2 separate regions of the Homo sapiens genome follow, and region 1 is linked to region 2. Evidence: fine-mapped expression QTL. Tissue or cell type: lung. Region 2 holds a variant in brackets; the other region holds the start of a gene. All regions are shown on one strand. Distances are between the middles of the regions.

Evidence for each region. PIP is the estimated chance that this variant, and not a neighbour inherited with it, causes the effect.
Region 1: it holds the start of TNFRSF10B, and the variant in region 2 is fine-mapped to the expression of TNFRSF10B in lung (TOPMed, PIP 0.99). The same link has a PIP of 0.9 or more in fibroblasts and whole blood.

Annotation. Positions count from the first base shown.
Region 1 is chr8:23,062,511-23,072,753 of GRCh38, reverse strand. TNFRSF10B (TNF receptor superfamily member 10b) reads left to right here and starts at 3,723. Exons shown (of 9, transcript NM_003842.5): 1 at 3,723-4,003. The coding sequence starts at 3,860. It also overlaps the pseudogene TNFRSF10B-AS1. RefSeq lists enhancers at 1,403-1,902, 2,224-2,518, 3,300-3,469, 3,490-3,539, 4,080-4,339 and 1 more, a cis regulatory region at 3,733-3,738 and promoters at 3,193-3,863, 2,631-6,344.
Region 2 is chr8:23,019,275-23,029,366 of GRCh38, reverse strand. It overlaps RHOBTB2 (Rho related BTB domain containing 2), which reads right to left. Exons shown (of 10, transcript NM_015178.3): 10 at 9,168-10,092. It overlaps TNFRSF10B (TNF receptor superfamily member 10b), which reads left to right. Exons shown (of 9, transcript NM_003842.5): 5 at 765-1,036; 6 at 1,614-1,645; 7 at 2,079-2,234; 8 at 5,107-5,179; 9 at 6,383-9,234. The coding sequence ends at 6,696. Among named protein-coding and RNA genes, the nearest start is that of RHOBTB2-AS1, 25 kb to the right of the region's middle. RefSeq lists enhancers at 121-621, 622-1,122, 9,310-9,469, 9,265-9,827, 9,828-10,092. The variant A/G (reference allele first, on the strand shown) is at 7,146.

The DNA.
Region 1 (10,243 bases), 43 kb before region 2:
GCTCACTGTCTGCTTCCTGGGTGAATCATTCTCCCCGCAAACCCATGAGGTGAGTGCAGTCGTGGCTTCAGCTCACCGCCTGACAGGCTCCAGGCTGTAGCACAGGGAGGGCCCTGTGGACTCTGCTGAGGAACCATACGAGCTCCCAGAGGCCAAGTGCAGGACAGAGAATAGAGAAGCAGCTGCTCAGAGAACTCTAGCCCTGTAGAGGTGCAAATATGGCTGCTATTATACAGAAGGTGAGGCCAAAAATGCTGGAGACACTGCTCCTGAATCTCAGTTTTGCCACTTGTAAAACAGGGAAAACAACCTACTCTCATGTCCCCAGGTTGTTAGGAAAATCCACTACATGAAGATGTGCAGTCTCTGGCTGGGAGCAGGACACCAGCTGCCCAACAGCACAGGCTCAGGGCATGGCACTGTCTCCACTGTCCCCATCCCCAACCTGGAAGCTAGAGCCTCGCTGCCCTGCCACTTCTGGATGCAGGACAGAGAACCGGAACTGGGACTGTGGTCTCTCAGTAGAGGCTGTGAACAGCCATCTGTGGCCACACGGATTGAGACCTTTCCTGCTCACTCTTCAAACTGGGGCACCGGCTGGGTGCCCAACAGAAAGACAATTGGAAGAGTGGCAGGTAAACCAGGCTGTGGCCCTGCAGTGCCATCACCGTCCTCATTTGAATTCTGGCTCGTCTGTTCCTCTACGGCCCCTCCGCATGGCGCTCCACCCCAGTCTTCAGAAATTTCTGCCTCAAGCTCAGGGAGCTGGTACTGAGGTACAGGTAGGAGAAGGTGCAGCCTCTGCTGAGTGGAGGACATGTGCCCTGGGGATCCAGAGTCTAGAGTGACTGACACCAGCCCTGCAATTTGTCCTCCTAGACCTGTTAACAGAGCCTGCAGAAGTTTACACAGGGCTGCTGAAGATTTTTATCCCCTCATTTTACAGGAAGGAGCTGGGGCCATACCAGAGTCAGAGCTGGACCGGGAGCACGGCAGGGCCCAGCCATCCACAGCCTCCAATTTCAGTACTCTCTAACAACCTGAGAGCCTGAGCCTTCGGATCTTCTTGATTCCTACTTTGATAAAGAGAGGGATGGGGTTGGAAGGACCTGGCATAGAGATTGGACCAGTCCGGCATTGACAGAGCCAGGACCTGGGGTCCGGAACTGAGCTCAGCTCCAGGCTCATCTGAAGTCACCCTGACAGCCTGAGGATGGAGACCTTATTTCCATTAACAGGCATGGCGGTTGGCAGGGACTGGCCCCAGCTGAGCACGGTTTTCCAAGTACACAGCTGGGAATTAAGTCTTCTCTGCCGCCCTCCCCTGTAGTCTTGCCTGGATCCCCCCAGTCATCTACTCCCAGTACCAAAAACTCCTGTATTCTTGAAAATCCGTAGTACTGAGAGGTGACAGCTTGCTGGCAGTCCTCAACAGCCCTCGCTCGCTCTCGGCGCCTCCTCTGCCTGGGCTCCCACTTTGGCGGCACTTGAGGAGCCCTTCAGCCCACCGCTGCACTGTGGGAGCCCTTTTCTGGGCTGGCCAAGGCTGGAGCCCGCTCCCTCAGCTTGCACGGAGGTGTGGAGGGAGAGGCGCGAGCGGGAACCGGGGCTGCGCGCGCGGCACTTGCGGGCCAGCTGGAGTTCCGGGTGGGCGTGGGCTCGGCGGGCCCTGCACTCGGAGCAGCCGGCCGGCCCTGCCGGCCCCGGGCAATGAGGGGTTTAGCACCCGGGCCAGCGGCTGCGGAGGGTGTACTGGGTCCCCCAGCAGTGCCGGCCCACTGGCGCTGCGCTTGATTTCTCGCCGGGCCTTAGCTGCCTTCCCGACGGGCAGGGCTCGGGACCGCCATGCCTGAGCCTCTCACCCCCTCCGTGGGCTCCTGTGCAGCCGGAGCCTCCCCGACGAGCACCTCCCCCTGCTCCAGGGCGCCCAGTCCCATCGACCACCCAAGGGCTGAGGAGTGCGGGCGCACGGCGCGGGAGCACGGCGCGGGACTGGCAGGCAGCTCCACCTGCAACCCCGGTGCGGGATCCACTGGGTGACGACACCTGGGCTCCTGAGTCTGGTGGGGACGTGGAGAACCTTTATGTTTAGCTAAGGGATTGTAAATACACCAATTGGCACTGTGTATCTAGCTCAAGTTTTGTAAACACACCAATCAGCACCGTGTGTCTAGCTCAGGGTTTGTGAATGCACCAATTGACACTCTGTATCTAGCTAGTCTGGTGGGGCCTTGGAGAACCTTTGTGTCCACACTCTGTATCTAGCTAATCTGGTGGGGAAGTGGAGAACATTTGTGTCTAGCTCAGGGATTGTAAACCACCAATCAGCGCCCTGTCAAAACAGACCACTCCGCTCTACCAATCAGCAGGGTGTGGGTGGGGCCAGATAAGAGAATAAAAGCAGGCTGCCAGAGCCAGCAGTGGTAACACTGTGGAAGCTTCCTTCTTTCCCTCTGCAATAAATCTTGCTACTGCTCACTCTTTGGGTCCACACTGCCTTTATGAGCTGTAACACTCACCTTGAAGGTCTGCAGCTTCACTCTTGAAGCCAGCGAGACCACGAGCCCACCAGGAGGAAAGAACAACTCCAGACCCACTGCCTTAAGAGCTGTAACACTCACTGGGAAGGTCTGCAGCTTCACTCCTGAGCCAGTGAGACCACGAACCCACCAGAAGGAAGAAACTCCGAACACATCCGAACATCAGAAGGAACAAACTCCAGACACGCCGCCTTTAAGAACTGTAACACTCACCGCGAGGGTCCGAGGCTTCATTCTTGAAGGCAGTGAGACCAAGAACCCACCAATTCCGGACACAGTACCATGAAGGAATGAAAATACATAACAATGTGATGTATCATGTTTTATTTCCTAGACTAGTGACAAATGAAAGCTAAGTGTAGCAAGGGTGCAGGGACACAGGCACATTTGTGGACTAGGTGTGAGTGTAAGCTGGGTTCGATGGTCTTTTGGCCAACATAGTGAACCCCTGTGTCTACTAAAAATACAAAAATTAGCCAGGCGTGGTGGTGCAGGCCTGTAGTCCCAGCTACATGGGAGGCTGAGGTGGGAGTATCGCTTGAACCTGGGAGACGGAAGTTGCAGTGAGCCGGGATCACACCACCGCTCACCAATCTGAGCCACAGAGAGACTGTCTCAAAAAATAAACCACAAGGAAGGGAGGTAGGGGGAGGGGGAGGGAGGGAGGAAAGAGAAAGAGAGAAAGGAAGGAAAGAGAAAGCAGGAAGGACGGAAAGAAGACGAAAGAACGAAAGAAAACGAAAGAAAAAAGGAAAGAAGAGAGAAGGAGAGAACAGAAGGGGCAGGTGCCCCTGGGAAGGGGAGAAGATCAAGACGCGCCTGGAAAGCGGACTCTGAACCTCAAGACCCTGTTCACAGCCAAGCGCGCGACCCCGGGAGGCGTCAACTCCCCAAGTGCCTCCCTCAACTCATTTCCCCCAAGTTTCGGTGCCTGTCCTGGCGCGGACAGGACCCAGAAACAAACCACAGCCCGGGGCGCAGCCGCCAGGGCGAAGGTTAGTTCCGGTCCCTTCCCCTCCCCTCCCCACTTGGACGCGCTTGCGGAGGATTGCGTTGACGAGACTCTTATTTATTGTCACCAACCTGTGGTGGAATTTGCAGTTGCACATTGGATCTGATTCGCCCCGCCCCGAATGACGCCTGCCCGGAGGCAGTGAAAGTACAGCCGCGCCGCCCCAAGTCAGCCTGGACACATAAATCAGCACGCGGCCGGAGAACCCCGCAATCTCTGCGCCCACAAAATACACCGACGATGCCCGATCTACTTTAAGGGCTGAAACCCACGGGCCTGAGAGACTATAAGAGCGTTCCCTACCGCCATGGAACAACGGGGACAGAACGCCCCGGCCGCTTCGGGGGCCCGGAAAAGGCACGGCCCAGGACCCAGGGAGGCGCGGGGAGCCAGGCCTGGGCCCCGGGTCCCCAAGACCCTTGTGCTCGTTGTCGCCGCGGTCCTGCTGTTGGTGAGTCCCCGCCGCGGTCCCTGGCTGGGGAAGAGCGTGCCTGGCGCCTGGAGAGGGCAGGGAGAGAGGGGGACACGGCGGGGGTGCGTGGCCCGGGTCGCCTGCGGCCGGGCATGTCCGGGCAAGACGCACCAGTCGTCGGAGTCGGGGGAAGAGATGGGTCCCCGGGTTGGGCAGGAGCGACCTGGGCCGCCAGGGAACAGAGCGCGCGCTCCACTTGGTGTAAATTCCCGAATCCAGTGGGGGAGGGCGACAAGGAGGGAATTCCCGAGTAAGCTGCGTGAAGCCACGGAGAGGTCGTCGGACTTTGATTTTGTTTTCTTTCCTTACTTTCTGTTTCTTTCTCTTTTTCTCTTTCTTCCTTTCTTTCCCTCCCTTCCTTCCTCGCTCAGTTCCTGCCTTAATTTCTTTTTCTTTTGCGCCTTCGAATGAATTCCTAAAGGCGCTCATTGCAGATCGCTTTGAACCTGCGGCCGGCGAAGAACTCCCCTGTGGTCGCTGCGGCCCAGTGGTTCCGTTCCGTGCGCGGGAGTCGTCGCGGGCGCAGCTGGAGAGGCCCCTTCCCCTCCTTAGCGGCTGCGCCCCTACGCGTGCGGGGCCGCTCATCGCCAATGCCATTGTTTGGGGTTCCTTGGGAAAACGAGATTTAGGAGAAGGGAGTTGTGGCACTTGGGGCCTGACCTGCTTGATAATAGCAGCTGCATTTTGGCCTGGGAAGAGCCTTTCTTGCCACCTCTTGGCAAGTATCCGTGATAATGGGGAAGGGACAAAGAGTCGGCTTTGTAGGGAACAGCATGGTGTGCTCAGCGCCTGGAACTGCGCTTGGGGCCAGGAGAGGTTCTGAATCATCACATTTTACAGAGGAAGAGACCGCAGCTCAGAGTGGGGAAGTGTGTGGGCCTAGACCTAACTCAAGACTGTACAGAGGGGCTGGAAGGGAGAGGAGGAACAGTGAAAGGAAGGTCAAGAGAATGCTGGTGTTGACCTAGAAGAATGTCAGTGTGAAGCATTGGAGTTTCATGGGATATTGTTACACACCTCATGTTTTCACTGTTTCCGCCCCACACCACAGTATGTCCTTGGTCTCACCTCTGAGTGGAGGGAGGACCTAACTGTCCTAGTGAGGAGAGTGTACAGGGGCCTCTGCCTCCCCCTCCTGCTGTGGTTTCTGTGGGCCTAGGTCCCCAGGGCATCTTGCCTCTCTTTGGGTGGTGGATCTTTGGTCTCTGGCTGCTTTTAAAGATTTTTCTTAGCACTGGTTTGCAGTGATTTGGTTTGTTTGCTCTGTTGTGGGGTTTTTTTTTTATCTCTATAAAGAATTTTTTGGATTTTTGGCTTTAGACTTTCATGTTCTTTCTACTTGGAAGATTTTTCTGTAAAGAAAGCCACAACTGGGTTGTGTTGAATTTCTTGGATTTGGGGTTTTAGAGTTTATGTTCTCCTTGGAGACTTTTCTGTAAAGAAAGCCACAACAGCCGGGTCTGGTAGCTCATGCCTGTAATCCCAGCACTTTGGGAGGCCGAGGCGGGCAGATCACATGAGGTCAGGGATTCGAGACCAGCCTGACCAACATGGTGAAACCCCGTCTCTACTAAAAATACAAAATTAGCTGGGTGTGGTGGTGGGCACCTGCAATCCCAGCTACTTGGGAGGTTGAGGCAGGAGAATCACTTGAACCTGGGAGGCAGAAGTTGCAGTGAGCAGAGATGGCGCCACTGCACTCCAGCCTGGGAGACAAGAGCAAGACTCCAACTCAAAAAAAAGAAAGAAAGAAAGCCACAACAGAGTTATGTTGAATTTCTTGGATTTGGGGTTTTAGAGTTTATGTTTTTGTTTGTTTGTTTGTTTGTTTTGAGATGGAGTCTTGCCTCTGTCGCCTAGGCTGGAGTGCAGTGGTGGGATCTCAGCTCACTGCAACCTCTGCCTCCTGGGTTCACGCCATTCTCCTGCCTCAGCATCCCGTGTAGCTGGGACTACAGGCATGCACCACCACGCCCAGCGAACTTTTTGTATTTTTAGTAGAGACGGGGTTTCACCGTGTTAGCCAGGATGGTCTGGCTCGTGATCTGCCCGCCTCAGCCTCCCAAAATGCTGGGATTACAGGGGTGAGCCACCACGCCCAGCCGAGTTTATGTTCTACTTGGAAGATTTTCAGCCATTATTTCTTCAAATACTCTGTCTCTTCTGGTGACTGAGATCTTATTATATTTACGTTAGAATGTTAGATTTTGTATCAGAGCTAACTTAGTATCTGTTCTTTTTTTTCCCCCATCATTTTCTATGTTTCACTTTGGACATTTCCCTGTGAGGGCTCTTCAAGTTCATTGATCTGCTTCTGCAGAATCTAACCTGCTGTTAATCTCATCTACTGTATATCAGATATATATTTTTTGAACTTTAGAAGTTCTCTTTTGGCATTTTTAATATCTTCCATCTATTTCCTGGTCATCTTTGTGTTTTTCTTTTTTGAGACAGGGTCTTACTCTGTCACCCAGGCTGGAGTGCAGTGGCACAGTCAGAGTTCACTGCAGCCTCAACCTCTTGGGCTCAAGTGATCCTCCCACCTCGGCCTCCCAAGTAGCTGGGACCACAGGCACTTGCAACCACACCTGGCTAATTTTTGTATTTTTAGTAGAGACGGGGTTTCACCATGTTGCCCAGGCTGGTCTCAAACTCCTGCGCTCAAGGAATCCTCCCACCTTGTCCTCCCAAAGTATTGGGATTACAGGCCTGAGCCACCGTGCGCAACCTATGATTTTGGTGGTGGTGTTTTTTGTTTTTCTGTTTTTTAAATATTCTTGAGTATATTTGTAAGCTTTAGATGACCTGTTTTAAGTTATTTAATCTATCAACACCATTATATCTGTTATTACGGCCACTGTTTCTGTTGATTACATTTTTTTTCCTGCCCATAGGGACTTTTTTTTTCATGCATAGTAATTTCTTATTGCTTGACATTGTGAATTTTGCTTTCTTGGGTACCGAACATCACTGTGTTCTTTCAAAGTCTATTGGGCATTATTCTGGTCACAGAAAACTGAGGATCAGTTTGCTCCTCTGATACTAGCTTTTATCTACATATAACTATATACCTTGTGTTCAGTTGCCTTATTCAGGGGCTCATTTAGTTAACTACTAAAGTTATAGTGGTTGACTTCTGATGGTAACTCGCCAGCACCCTGGCATGCGTTCTGTCCACTGTGGGAAGGGGAACATGCAGATCTCCCAGCCCTGAGTGGTCCACAATCTAGTCTCTCCTTCCCTGGGTGGCTTCTTCTCAGGCACCTAGAGTCAGTCTCAGCAGACACTGGACATGTCTTCTGCAAGGATCCAGAGTCCTCCAGGCAGCTGCTTCTCCCAGTCTCTGCCCTGCACTTGGCCTCTGGGAGTTCCTGCCTGTGGTTCTCAACAGAGACTACAGAGCTCTACAGGGTCCTCTGCCCCTGCTGTAGCTGGAGGCTGTCCTTACGCAGTGAGCTGAGGCCACAGCTAGTCTCACTGCATGTGCTTGGCGGCGGGGACAGGAGTGATTCATTCATCAGGTAGAGGAGGAACCCTTTACTCTGGGAAAATCTGTGCCTGGGTTGGGGAAGGACAAATGAGCCCTGTGTGAATACTGACTACTCCCTGGAGCCCACAGTCTGGTGGAGCAGGTGACAGCAGGGACCTAAATAACTATCAGGAAGCATGAGGTCCCACCACTGTCACCTCCCCCACCTCCAGAGTGGCTGTGCTGGCTCCAGAGATGTCATCCCTCCATATTTGACTGACAGAGGGAGGCTGTGCAGTCCCAAGGCTCCAGGTCATGGTAGTTTGGCCAGGATAATATGGTTTGCTTAAAATCAACATTGAGGGTAATGATCGTACTAATCAGAGCATGTGTTTAAAGTTCTGTGTTTTAAGCACTTTCCATACATATTAACACTTTCAGTTCACACAACAACCTATGCAGGAACTGTGATTATCCTGGGCAGTTTTAAGGATGTGGGTGACTCAGAGAGGAAAGAAGAGGTTACTCGGGTTAATTTTTGACGAGAAATATTAGCAGGTTTTATGCTCAAACTTGGTGTAAAGCAAGGAGCCTGAATCACAGGTGGGTGAGTCACAAGACAGGGAAACCCCGCCAATGGCTCATGTCCGGGAGGAGGCAGGGTCCCTAGAATTCAATGGGACAAGAACTGAAATAAGCCAAACCCCTGACCTCCCTTCTTCTTGTTTTCCTTCTCTCTCTTAACCATGCCCATGGACACCCCCATGAGCCCATTTCTGTGGCCCAACACAGCTGTGCATCTCTGGCCACACGCCCATTCTCCCTCAATCAGAGAGGCCCACGGACGGCACAGCCTCGTCCTGCACAGCAGAAAGAGTGAATGGTGATGAATGGATCTATATTATTTCAACTCTCCTACATTTTGTAATCATATTACAATATTAATTCAGCAGTACCTCTCTTGTTTTTACTCCCCTCCCCCATTACACTGGATTCCTGTCTGTCTGGGATTCTGTCTGTGTGCACTCTTTCCTCTATGTCCACTACTGTCCCTGCCACCGATGGCATTTGTCACCTCTGCCTGGGCAGCCCCTCCAGACTCTTTGCAAGTTCATGGACTTTGGGGTTAATGATGGCTGTGCCTCAGCTCCTGTGAATGGAAACTGTGCTAAGGAAAGGAAGGGCCGTGCCATGTTCCCGATACTCCACGGCTCCTTGCATATGCGGTCGCCAGGCGCCTACATGCCTTCCATGAATGAATGAATGAGTAACGTGGATTCTAGGAAGCTGCACTAACCCAGACGTTGTGTCCTCAGCCTGCTCATAGAGTGTGTTAAACGTGAGAGGTGGGGAGTGTGGCAGGCAGGCTGAGGACAGAACAGAGGATCTGAATAGAGTACGGAGGATCACCCAAGTCCAGAGTCACCAAGGCCATTGTCAAGTTTTCCCCGGGGACATCCCTCATCAGATCCACCCATTAAAGATCATTGTTCACCCAGTGGAGAGTGGACTAGGTGGGTGCACTCAGGTGTGGCCTGGACAGCATTCGGGATGGGTCCTAGTGGTTAGGGTGAGGGTCAGGTTGCATTATCGTGAAGGAGGCAAGTGGCAGCTGAGGCAGATCTGAGGGAAATGATGATAACGCAGGCCGGTGATGCAATGGGTTTGGTAAGAAGAGGAAAGAGGTTTGTGGTGGATTCTAGTGTTTCTAATCTGAGACTTGGGTGAGGTCATTACCAAATAAGAAAGAGTAAATGGGCATAAATGGCTTTAAGAATTAGGAACCTGAATGTGCTATTGGAGACAGTATGGGCACGTCATTGCTCATAGACCTGCAGTACACAAAATGCTAAAAGATTTCAATCTGAATAGAGATGAAATGAAATGGAAACATGGATTTTTTTTTTTTTTTTTGAGACAGTTTCACTGTTGCTGCCCAGGCTGGAGTGCAATGGCGCAATCTCGGCTCACTGCAACCTCTGCCTCCTGGGTTCAAGCGATTCTCCTGCCTCAGCCTCCTGAACAGCTGGGATTACAGGCGCTTGCCACCACACCCAGCTAATTTTTGTATTTTTAGTAGAGACCGGGTTTCACCATGTTGGCCAGGCCAGTCTCAAACTACTGACCTCAGGAGATCCACCGCCTTGGCCTCCCAAAGTGCTGGGATTACAGGCATGAGCCACCTTGCCTGGCTGGGAACATGGATCTTAAGGAAAGAAGGAAGATCATCAGGAATAGAAATATGAATGCACATATAAAGAATGATTATTTCCTCTTAATTTCTTGAAAATATTCACTATCAAGTAATATAACACTTTGTAGGGTTTGTAACATATGAACATGCCTGAGACAACTATAGCAGAAAGAATGAGTAGTGGAGATGAATCAATCTGTATTATTTCAAGTCTCCTACATTTTATAATATTACCATATTAATTCTGCCATACAACTCAGTAATGAAAAGGAATGGAGTACTGATGCATATGAAAATATGACCGAATTTCAAAATAATTATGCTGAGTTAAAGAAACCAGACAGAAAAGCATATATAGTATCTGATTCCATCTATGATATTTATAGCCAGAAATGGTTTAATTAAAAAAGAAGAAGGATCTTAAATCAACGAGCTAAGTTTACAAATGTAGGAATTAGAAAAAGAATGAACCAAACCTAGAGTTAGCATTATAAAGGAAATAATTATTAGAAGAGAAATAAATAAAACAGAGAATAGAAAAACAGTAGAGGCCGGA
Region 2 (10,092 bases):
GGGCCCATGATAATTTTAGGGGCCCATGAAATGATTTAATTTCTCTTGAAATAAGAAGAATGAGTAGAATGCAGCCAGGCATATATTCATCTTTATACCAATTCAGCAATAAAATGTATTTTTTAATATTTTTATGCATGCAGGGGCCCATAAAGACAAAAGTGCCCATGGCCCACAAAAGGCATAATAAGGCCATGGGTGGAGCTCCTTCAAGTTCCCATGAGGACCTGAGCCCACCCAGCCGGCCTCACCCCTGGCCCCTGATCCCTCAGTAAGACCTGTCTTTTCCCTATTTGGGTTTTAGGGGCCAAGAGTAATTTGCTCTTCTCTGGCCCCCCTAGTATTTGCTGTGATTGGGGGAAATGGGCAGACAGCTGGGGACAAGAGCTCACTTTTGTGGTTGACTGGAAGACCGGACTCATCTTGTGGCCACACGGGCTTGTGACCTTCCCCTGGAGTGTGATTGCTCCTAACGCAGGCCTCCCCTGCAGCCCAGGGAAGCTCAGTGTGTGCCCAGCACAGAAGGCTCCTGGAACTGCAGCTCTGACCCCAGAGCAGGGAGGCCGAGGGGCTGAAGTGCGCATGCTCAGACCCTTCCCCAGCCTCAAGAAGGGAGCACAGGGGGACCCACTGCTGACACGAGGAGACTGTCCTTCCCCTGACACCTTCTCAGGGACACTGGGGAGGGAGGGTGGCTCCTCTTTCATCCCACCTGGCCAGCTTTCCATCAAGAGTCCCCCCTCTCCCTCTGTGTGTGTACCCAGGTGTCCCAGAGGGATGGTCAAGGTCGGTGATTGTACACCCTGGAGTGACATCGAATGTGTCCACAAAGAATCAGGTACAAAGCACAGTGGGGAAGTCCCAGCTGTGGAGGAGACGGTGACCTCCAGCCCAGGGACTCCTGCCTCTCCCTGTTCTCTCTCAGGCATCATCATAGGAGTCACAGTTGCAGCCGTAGTCTTGATTGTGGCTGTGTTTGTTTGCAAGTCTTTACTGTGGAAGAAAGTCCTTCCTTACCTGAAAGGCATCTGCTCAGGTAGGTGCTGGCTGAGGGCGGGGGCACAGGGCACTCTCTGCCCTGCCCCCTCCCACCCTATTCCCACAGACAGAAACGCCTGCCCCTGCCCCAAGTCTAAGTGCCTCCAGCCTGGCTCTATCCTCCTCCTCGTGGTCACCCCCATCCCCACATCCCGTGCACCCCCCAGGACCCTGGTCTCTTCAGTCCCTCTCCCAGGTCTGGGGGTCCCCATATCTCCCAGCCAAGTCCAGGAGGGCAGGGCCAGTTCCTCCCATCTTCAGGCCCAGCCAGGCAGGGGGCAGTCGGCTCCTCAACTGGGTGACAAGGGTGAGGATGAGAAGTGGTCGTGGGATTTTTTCAGCCTTGGTCAGAGCAGAACCAGAGATTTTCCAAGTGTTTGTTTTTACTCTAGTTCCCCTTCTCATCCCCCTTCCTCAGGGTGTCTCTGAGTTGTAAGGCCCCATTCTGTCCCCAGCCCCAGGGCTCCTTGTCCAGTGTCCCAGCCCCCAGCCCAGCCCTGCGCCCCACTGTCCTCTGGGAGGGGGGTGCTTCATGGGCCCCTCCCTTCCTGCTAAGGAGACTGCTTCTTTTTTAGGTGGTGGTGGGGACCCTGAGCGTGTGGACAGAGTGAGTTGATTTCTCCAGGAGCTGGGGGCTCAGGGGTTCAGGAACTGCTTCCTGGGACAGCAGAACCTGGGTGGGTGGGTCCCCATTGTCCTCATGGCTGCCCTGACTCTCTGAAGTGGCCTGGGTGCTCTGGGCTGACTGTGGGGGACACATGGCCATTTTGAGCACCACATAGGCTGGTGAGCCCTGCTGCAGCCCAGGTGACATCCTCACCCCACAGCCTGCACCCTAGGGATGGGGTGTCTGCCTGAGCACAGCACTGGGGGCCTGGCCCCAGCAGCGGGTCCTGGATGTGCTGAGTCTGGGCTGCCTGCGGTGACCTCACTGAGAGGGGGTGGGGATGTCAGGTGCAGCTGCATACTGAGGACCCTGCAGCGAGCCCTAGGTGTGGACTCCTGAGTCGGCTTTTTGCCTTCCCAATGTCTTTTTCCAGAGCTCACAACGACCTGGGGCTGAGGACAATGTCCTCAATGAGATCGTGAGTATCTTGCAGCCCACCCAGGTCCCTGAGCAGGAAATGGAAGTCCAGGAGCCAGCAGAGCCAACAGGTGTCAACATGTTGTCCCCCGGGGAGTCAGAGCATCTGCTGGTGAGTGGGGGACAGATCATTTTGTTTCCTGGCATGCTGCTCACCTGGGATTTCGTAGACAGTGGGAGAGGGCAGTGCCTTAGCTCTCCTGGCCCAGGGGAAATGGAACCTGAAGGAGCCAGGGGACTGCAGGGGATGGAGCAGCTGCACTGAGGTGGTGACCGTGCCAGTCTGCAGGACATCTGCTTCTTACTCCCTGTCCTGTCCTTGCTGTGTCCCCCGAGCCTGGAGCTCCACAGGCATAGAGTGGGGGTCACAGGGTTCATTGATGAGTGAATAAGGCTGCACAGTCTCCATCGTATGCTCCTAACAGAAGTCAGTGAGCCCTTGCTTGTAACAGCAGGAGTTTTAAATTTACTCTGAAATTGTTATTACATTGAACATATTTCAAAGTTCGTAGGGCAGCTTCCAAAAAGTAGGATTCCAAGTCGATGCACAAAGGGCTTTTGTATTGGACACACGCACACAATCAGTTCATATCAATCCATCAGTTTTGATGTGATATTGAGTAGGCAGGAAATCTGTATATACATTTATTGTTCATTGCTCGTAAGCACTGAAAGTCCTTCCCTCGAACATAAGATGAGACTATCCAGTTTCCTGCAGTGTTTTATTTTTAATGATTTGATTTTTAACATACAGCAATATAATCTAAACAGAATTGAATTTTCGATTCAATATAAGCTGAGAAACTCCCTGAATTATTCTGAGTCTCTGTTTCCTTCTTCCAAGCCCATTTAGCAACCAATTCTTCCTTTTTCCCTTGCCTTTGCCCTTTTGCCACCTCCTTTGCTACATGTCAAATGTTTACTTTTTTCTCTCTTCCTCTTCACTCTTTTTTAAAAAAACAAACAAACAAAAAAAAACTAGATCTTATCCTTGAAAATGTCAAATGTTTATATGGGCAGAGATCTCTTCCACCTAGACTGTTTCTGTTTCTTCCTTGCATCTGTACCACTTTCTTTTTAAATAAAGAGAAGAGATTTTAAAAGGAAACAAATGAACAATGCCAATACTTCCTCCATGCTTATTAATGACTTTGAAGATTTTTTTTTTTGAGACAGGATCTTGCTCTATCACCTGGGCTGGAGTGCAGTGGCACCATCTTGGCTCATTGCAACCCCTGCCTCCTGGGCTCATGTCATCCTCTCACCTCAGCTTCCTGAGTAGCTGGAACTATAGGCATGTGCCACCGTGCCCAGCTAAGTTTTGTATTTTTTGTAGAGACGAGGTTTGGTCATGTTGCCTAGGCTGGTCTCGAACTCCTGAACTCAGGCAATCCACCCTCCTTGGCCTCCCAAAATGCTGGGATTACAAGCATGAGCCACCATGCCTGGCCTGATCATTTTTTGAAAGCAGGTCACCCATAGCCACACATCCACCAGAGTATGAAAAAACTTGATCATACCAAGAGCCTTCTTTACTCTTTCCCAGCCTTTTGGCCCTTCTTATTTCAGGTAACTACAGTGGATAATTTCTTGTGATTCTTTGCTAAACTCTTTATGCATATACCATCTAGGTACATAAATGCATATGTATTTATGTGGTATTGACATGAAAAGGATTATATCATGTACAACACCAAACAAAACTGTCTAATATGTTTTAATATCTTAGACAGCAAATATGTTTTCAAAATTATTTTTACACATCTTATAATTTAGAATTAGATAAAATTTAGAATTATAAGATTTTCTCTAGTACCCCTCCCGCCCACATAGTCACTAGACTTTACAAATATTAATTTAAATTAATACATGGTTCTAGGAATGATTGACATCCTTTCAACATTCAATTTTATTATCAAAGAAGATAATATTTCAAGTCAAGTGTTCTATTATGACTCAATCGAGATTTGGGAGTTTATTTCAGATAAATTTTTCCTATTCCTCATCAAAGCTGTTTCTTTGCATTTTGGGTCTTCTTGTAAGTCCATTTTCTAATTTATTATGTCTGCTGCTACTTTTCTTTTCTTTCTTTCTGAGATGGGTCTCACTCTTGTCACCCAGGCTGGAGTGCAGTGGTACAATCATGGCTCACTGCAGCCTTGACCTTCTAAGGCCAAGTAAGCTCGGACTTACCGGCTTCTGAGTAGCTCGGACGACAGTTTTGTGCCACTACACCCAGCTTATTTTATTTTATTTTATTTTATTTTTAGAAACAGGATCTCGCTATGTCGCCTAGGCTGGTCTCAAACTCCTGGGCTCAAGCAGTCTTCACACCTCAGCCTCCCAGAGTGCTGGGATTACAGGTGTGAGCCACCATGCCTGGCCTCTGCTATGTGGTTTAACATTCATCAGGGCTAGGTGCAGTGGCTCACGCCTGTAATCCCAGCACTTTGGGAGGCCGAGGCGGATGGATCATCTGAGGTAAGGAGTTTGAGACTAGCCTGGCCAACATGGTGAAACCCTGTCTCTACTAAAAATATAAAAATACGATAAAATAATTAGCTGGGCATGGTGGTGCACACCTGTAATCCCAGCTACTTGGGAGGCTGAGGCAGGAGAATCTCTTGAACCCAGAGGTGGAGGTTGCAGTGAGCCAAGATCGCACTATTGCACTCCAGCCTGGGAGACGGAGTGAGACTCTGTCTCGAAAAAAAAAAAAATCATCAAGACATATTCACTTTTGAGTATTACAAATTAAACCTTGGGGTTTTAAAAATATACACTCCTAATCTAAAATATTGACTGCTGTATCGGCCTCCTTCCGAGAGTCTTGCCCCTTTGTCTCCTGTCTTGTTGCCAGACCTTTCAGAACAATGTTCTGGAAGTGACGTGCTGCAGGTCTCAGAGCTGGCTGGTGGTCGGGGTCAGTACTGGACTGTAGGACTCCTGGCTCTGACCAGGACATTCCCCACTATGTGTTACAGGAACCGGCAGAAGCTGAAAGGTCTCAGAGGAGGAGGCTGCTGGTTCCAGCAAATGAAGGTGATCCCACTGAGAGTAAGTGTTTTGCTCCTGGAGATGCAGCAGGAATGGAGGGAATAGGGACAGGGTCCTAACTGCTGTCCCCAGAGGTCAGAGGGCTCTTCCAGAGTATTCCATGCTGGAAGCCGTGGGTCCTGTGCTATAGACCATCTGGACCCTAAACTGTCTTCTCCCATCTCTTCTCCCCACTCTACCTCATCCTCTCTGCACCCTATCATTGACCCTAATGACTCTGTCCGTCCCCTCATCCTCTCTCCTCCTTTGTTCAGGGCCTGATGTAGCCCCCGCCTGCCCCTGAGGACCTCCTGAGGGGCTGGCCTGTCCTGCACAGCACCACTAACCCCAGTGGGCTAAGGAGCTCTTGACCTGTGCCTCAGCCCAATTTGCAGAGCTGTTGTGTAAACTACATACGAATGCCAAAGACTTAATGCAAAAAAGAGTGGAAAATATTTCACTCATAATTTTTGTATATTGATTGTATATTAAATTATATTTTAAATATATTCAGTACCATACATTAAAATGAATGTCACTTGTTTCTGATGTTCTTTAAAATAAGGCTGTTGGAAAACATAGCCTCGTGTTCCTGACCCTGTCTATCTCTGAGGACGGCGAGGTGCATCATGTTGCACACACGTCTCATTTAATCCCTCATCGTCCCGAGATCTGGGCAGCATTGCTCGGTCTTTGGGTTCACTTCTTGCTCAGAGTCTGTTTGCCTCCACCTAGCTCTGCCCCAGCCCCAGGAAGTGAGGCCGAGCTGGGTGAAAACAGAGGTCCCCTGTCCCAGGCCCTGTGCTTTCCACAGATGCAGAAGTGGCCGCCCTGGGACCTGCTCCCATGACAAGCGCAGCCCAGGCAGCCTCCTCCCTCCTCTAAGCTCCCGCTGCAGCCACTGTCTCTCCCTCCCTCGGACTCTCACGCACTTTACTTTCTGCCTCTGTAACGTCCATCCATACTCCCCTGGTGGGTTCTCAGCCCTGTATGAGGGCTGATTCTCTGACGACTTTGACTCCCCGCAGTGCCTTGCGTGTGGGGGAGGCCAGGCAGTGTGGGCGCGCTCTCTGTGGATGGGAAGCGGGTGGGCACTGGAGCGGCAGGTTTGCCCGCACACGGGGCTCTCCAGGTTCCCCGCCTTGGGTTCTGGGCCTGATGTGGAATCCTCTGCCCTTTCTGAGTCCCAACTCACCTGGCTGTCTCTGTGGCTTTCTCCACCAGCTCTGAGACAGTGCTTCGATGACTTTGCAGACTTGGTGCCCTTTGACTCCTGGGAGCCGCTCATGAGGAAGTTGGGCCTCATGGACAATGAGATAAAGGTGGCTAAAGCTGAGGCAGCGGGCCACAGGGACACCTTGTACACGATGCTGATAAAGTGGGTCAACAAAACCGGGCGAGATGCCTCTGTCCACACCCTGCTGGATGCCTTGGAGACGCTGGGAGAGAGACTTGCCAAGCAGAAGATTGAGGACCACTTGTTGAGCTCTGGAAAGTTCATGTATCTAGAAGGTAATGCAGACTCTGCCATGTCCTAAGTGTGATTCTCTTCAGGAAGTCAGACCTTCCCTGGTTTACCTTTTTTCTGGAAAAAGCCCAACTGGACTCCAGTCAGTAGGAAAGTGCCACAATTGTCACATGACCGGTACTGGAAGAAACTCTCCCATCCAACATCACCCAGTGGATGGAACATCCTGTAACTTTTCACTGCACTTGGCATTATTTTTATAAGCTGAATGTGATAATAAGGACACTATGGAAATGTCTGGATCATTCCGTTTGTGCGTACTTTGAGATTTGGTTTGGGATGTCATTGTTTTCACAGCACTTTTTTATCCTAATGTAAATGCTTTATTTATTTATTTGGGCTACATTGTAAGATCCATCTACACAGTCGTTGTCCGACTTCACTTGATACTATATGATATGAACCTTTTTTGGGTGGGGGGTGCGGGGCAGTTCACTCTGTCTCCCAGGCTGGAGTGCA[A/G]TGGTGCAATCTTGGCTCACTATAGCCTTGACCTCTCAGGCTCAAGCGATTCTCCCACCTCAGCCATCCAAATAGCTGGGACCACAGGTGTGCACCACCACGCCCGGCTAATTTTTTGTATTTTGTCTAGATATAGGGGCTCTCTATGTTGCTCAGGGTGGTCTCGAATTCCTGGACTCAAGCAGTCTGCCCACCTCAGACTCCCAAAGCGGTGGAATTAGAGGCGTGAGCCCCCATGCTTGGCCTTACCTTTCTACTTTTATAATTCTGTATGTTATTATTTTATGAACATGAAGAAACTTTAGTAAATGTACTTGTTTACATAGTTATGTGAATAGATTAGATAAACATAAAAGGAGGAGACATACAATGGGGGAAGAAGAAGAAGTCCCCTGTAAGATGTCACTGTCTGGGTTCCAGCCCTCCCTCAGATGTACTTTGGCTTCAATGATTGGCAACTTCTACAGGGGCCAGTCTTTTGAACTGGACAACCTTACAAGTATATGAGTATTATTTATAGGTAGTTGTTTACATATGAGTCGGGACCAAAGAGAACTGGATCCACGTGAAGTCCTGTGTGTGGCTGGTCCCTACCTGGGCAGTCTCATTTGCACCCATAGCCCCCATCTATGGACAGGCTGGGACAGAGGCAGATGGGTTAGATCACACATAACAATAGGGTCTATGTCATATCCCAAGTGAACTTGAGCCCTGTTTGGGCTCAGGAGATAGAAGACAAAATCTGTCTCCCACGTCTGCCATGGCATCAAGGGGGAAGAGTAGATGGTGCTTGAGAATGGTGTGAAATGGTTGCCATCTCAGGAGTAGATGGCCCGGCTCACTTCTGGTTATCTGTCACCCTGAGCCCATGAGCTGCCTTTTAGGGTACAGATTGCCTACTTGAGGACCTTGGCCGCTCTGTAAGCATCTGACTCATCTCAGAAATGTCAATTCTTAAACACTGTGGCAACAGGACCTAGAATGGCTGACGCATTAAGGTTTTCTTCTTGTGTCCTGTTCTATTATTGTTTTAAGACCTCAGTAACCATTTCAGCCTCTTTCCAGCAAACCCTTCTCCATAGTATTTCAGTCATGGAAGGATCATTTATGCAGGTAGTCATTCCAGGAGTTTTTGGTCTTTTCTGTCTCAAGGCATTGTGTGTTTTGTTCCGGGACTGGTTTGGGTGGGACAAAGTTAGAATTGCCTGAAGATCACACATTCAGACTGTTGTGTCTGTGGAGTTTTAGGAGTGGGGGGTGACCTTTCTGGTCTTTGCACTTCCATCCTCTCCCACTTCCATCTGGCATCCCACGCGTTGTCCCCTGCACTTCTGGAAGGCACAGGGTGCTGCTGCCTCCTGGTCTTTGCCTTTGCTGGGCCTTCTGTGCAGGACGCTCAGCCTCAGGGCTCAGAAGGTGCCAGTCCGGTCCCAGGTCCCTTGTCCCTTCCACAGAGGCCTTCCTAGAAGATGCATCTAGAGTGTCAGCCTTATCAGTGTTTAAGATTTTTCTTTTATTTTTAATTTTTTTGAGACAGAATCTCACTCTCTCGCCCAGGCTGGAGTGCAACGGTACGATCTTGGCTCAGTGCAACCTCCGCCTCCTGGGTTCAAGCGATTCTCGTGCCTCAGCCTCCGGAGTAGCTGGGATTGCAGGCACCCGCCACCACGCCTGGCTAATTTTTGTATTTTTAGTAGAGACGGGGTTTCACCATGTTGGTCAGGCTGGTCTCGAACTCCTGACCTCAGGTGATCCACCTTGGCCTCCGAAAGTGCTGGGATTACAGGCGTGAGCCACCAGCCAGGCCAAGCTATTCTTTTAAAGTAAGCTTCCTGACGACATGAAATAATTGGGGGTTTTGTTGTTTAGTTACATTAGGCTTTGCTATATCCCCAGGCCAAATAGCATGTGACACAGGACAGCCATAGTATAGTGTGTCACTCGTGGTTGGTGTCCTTTCATGCTTCTGCCCTGTCAAAGGTCCCTATTTGAAATGTGTTATAATACAAACAAGGAAGCACATTGTGTACAAAATACTTATGTATTTATGAATCCATGACCAAATTAAATATGAAACCTTATATAAAAAGAGGTGTGGTTTTTGTCTCCCGCCCCCCAACCTCCCCTCCTCCTGTGAATCAGCTCTGAGTGACAGGAAACCAGGGCTGTGCTCCTGCTGGGACTCCTTCCTTCCTCCCTCCCCTCTGTTTTCAGGCTTGGCCTCCTGGGGGTGTTTCCTGAATCCGACTCCCCAGAGTTTAAAGAGCTAGGTTCCTGGGGACTGGGATTCATACCTCCTTCCCCTCTCTCTCCTGCCTGCTCCTCCCTCTGGGGACAGGGACACCAATGTTGGCCTGGCTCACCCACAGCCTCCCAGGAGAGTTCTCTGGGCTGCCGGGTTGCATCTGGTTCCGACAGCTCTCGGGGAATGGGCGGTGGGTCCCTGAAGTTGGGGGGCCGGCCCTGTTTCTCAGGGAATCCCGTGGTCACTCTCCTATGGCTTCCTACAGCCCTGGGTCGACCTTCACTTTCTCTGCCCCGGCCTTCCCTGCATCCCCACCAGGGTACCCAGGTTGCTCAGCGCTTCAGGCACCTAGGAGACCTATTTCCCGTTCCCCTTGCCCTGGAGGACCCGCTCTCCCTTTCGTCCACAGCTTCCGGGAGGCCCAGGTGTGCCCCCACGCTGTCCATCTTCCCTAGAAGTGGAGGTGCTCCGGGTTCCCCCTTCGTCCCCCCAGCCCTGCCCATGGGCTTCTGGGCCTCACTTGGAGCCCTGGGCTGCGCTGAGCTGCAGGGAGGCCGAGCAGCCTGTAGAGGGCAGCATACGCGTGGCTTTCCAGCCAGCCGCCCTGGAGGCCGTGGAGGGGAGGCAGCCACAGTCCTGGAGGGGCCTGGGCCTGGACAACATGGCCGCCCCCAGGGTTAGAGCCGCTTGTCCTCCAGCCGC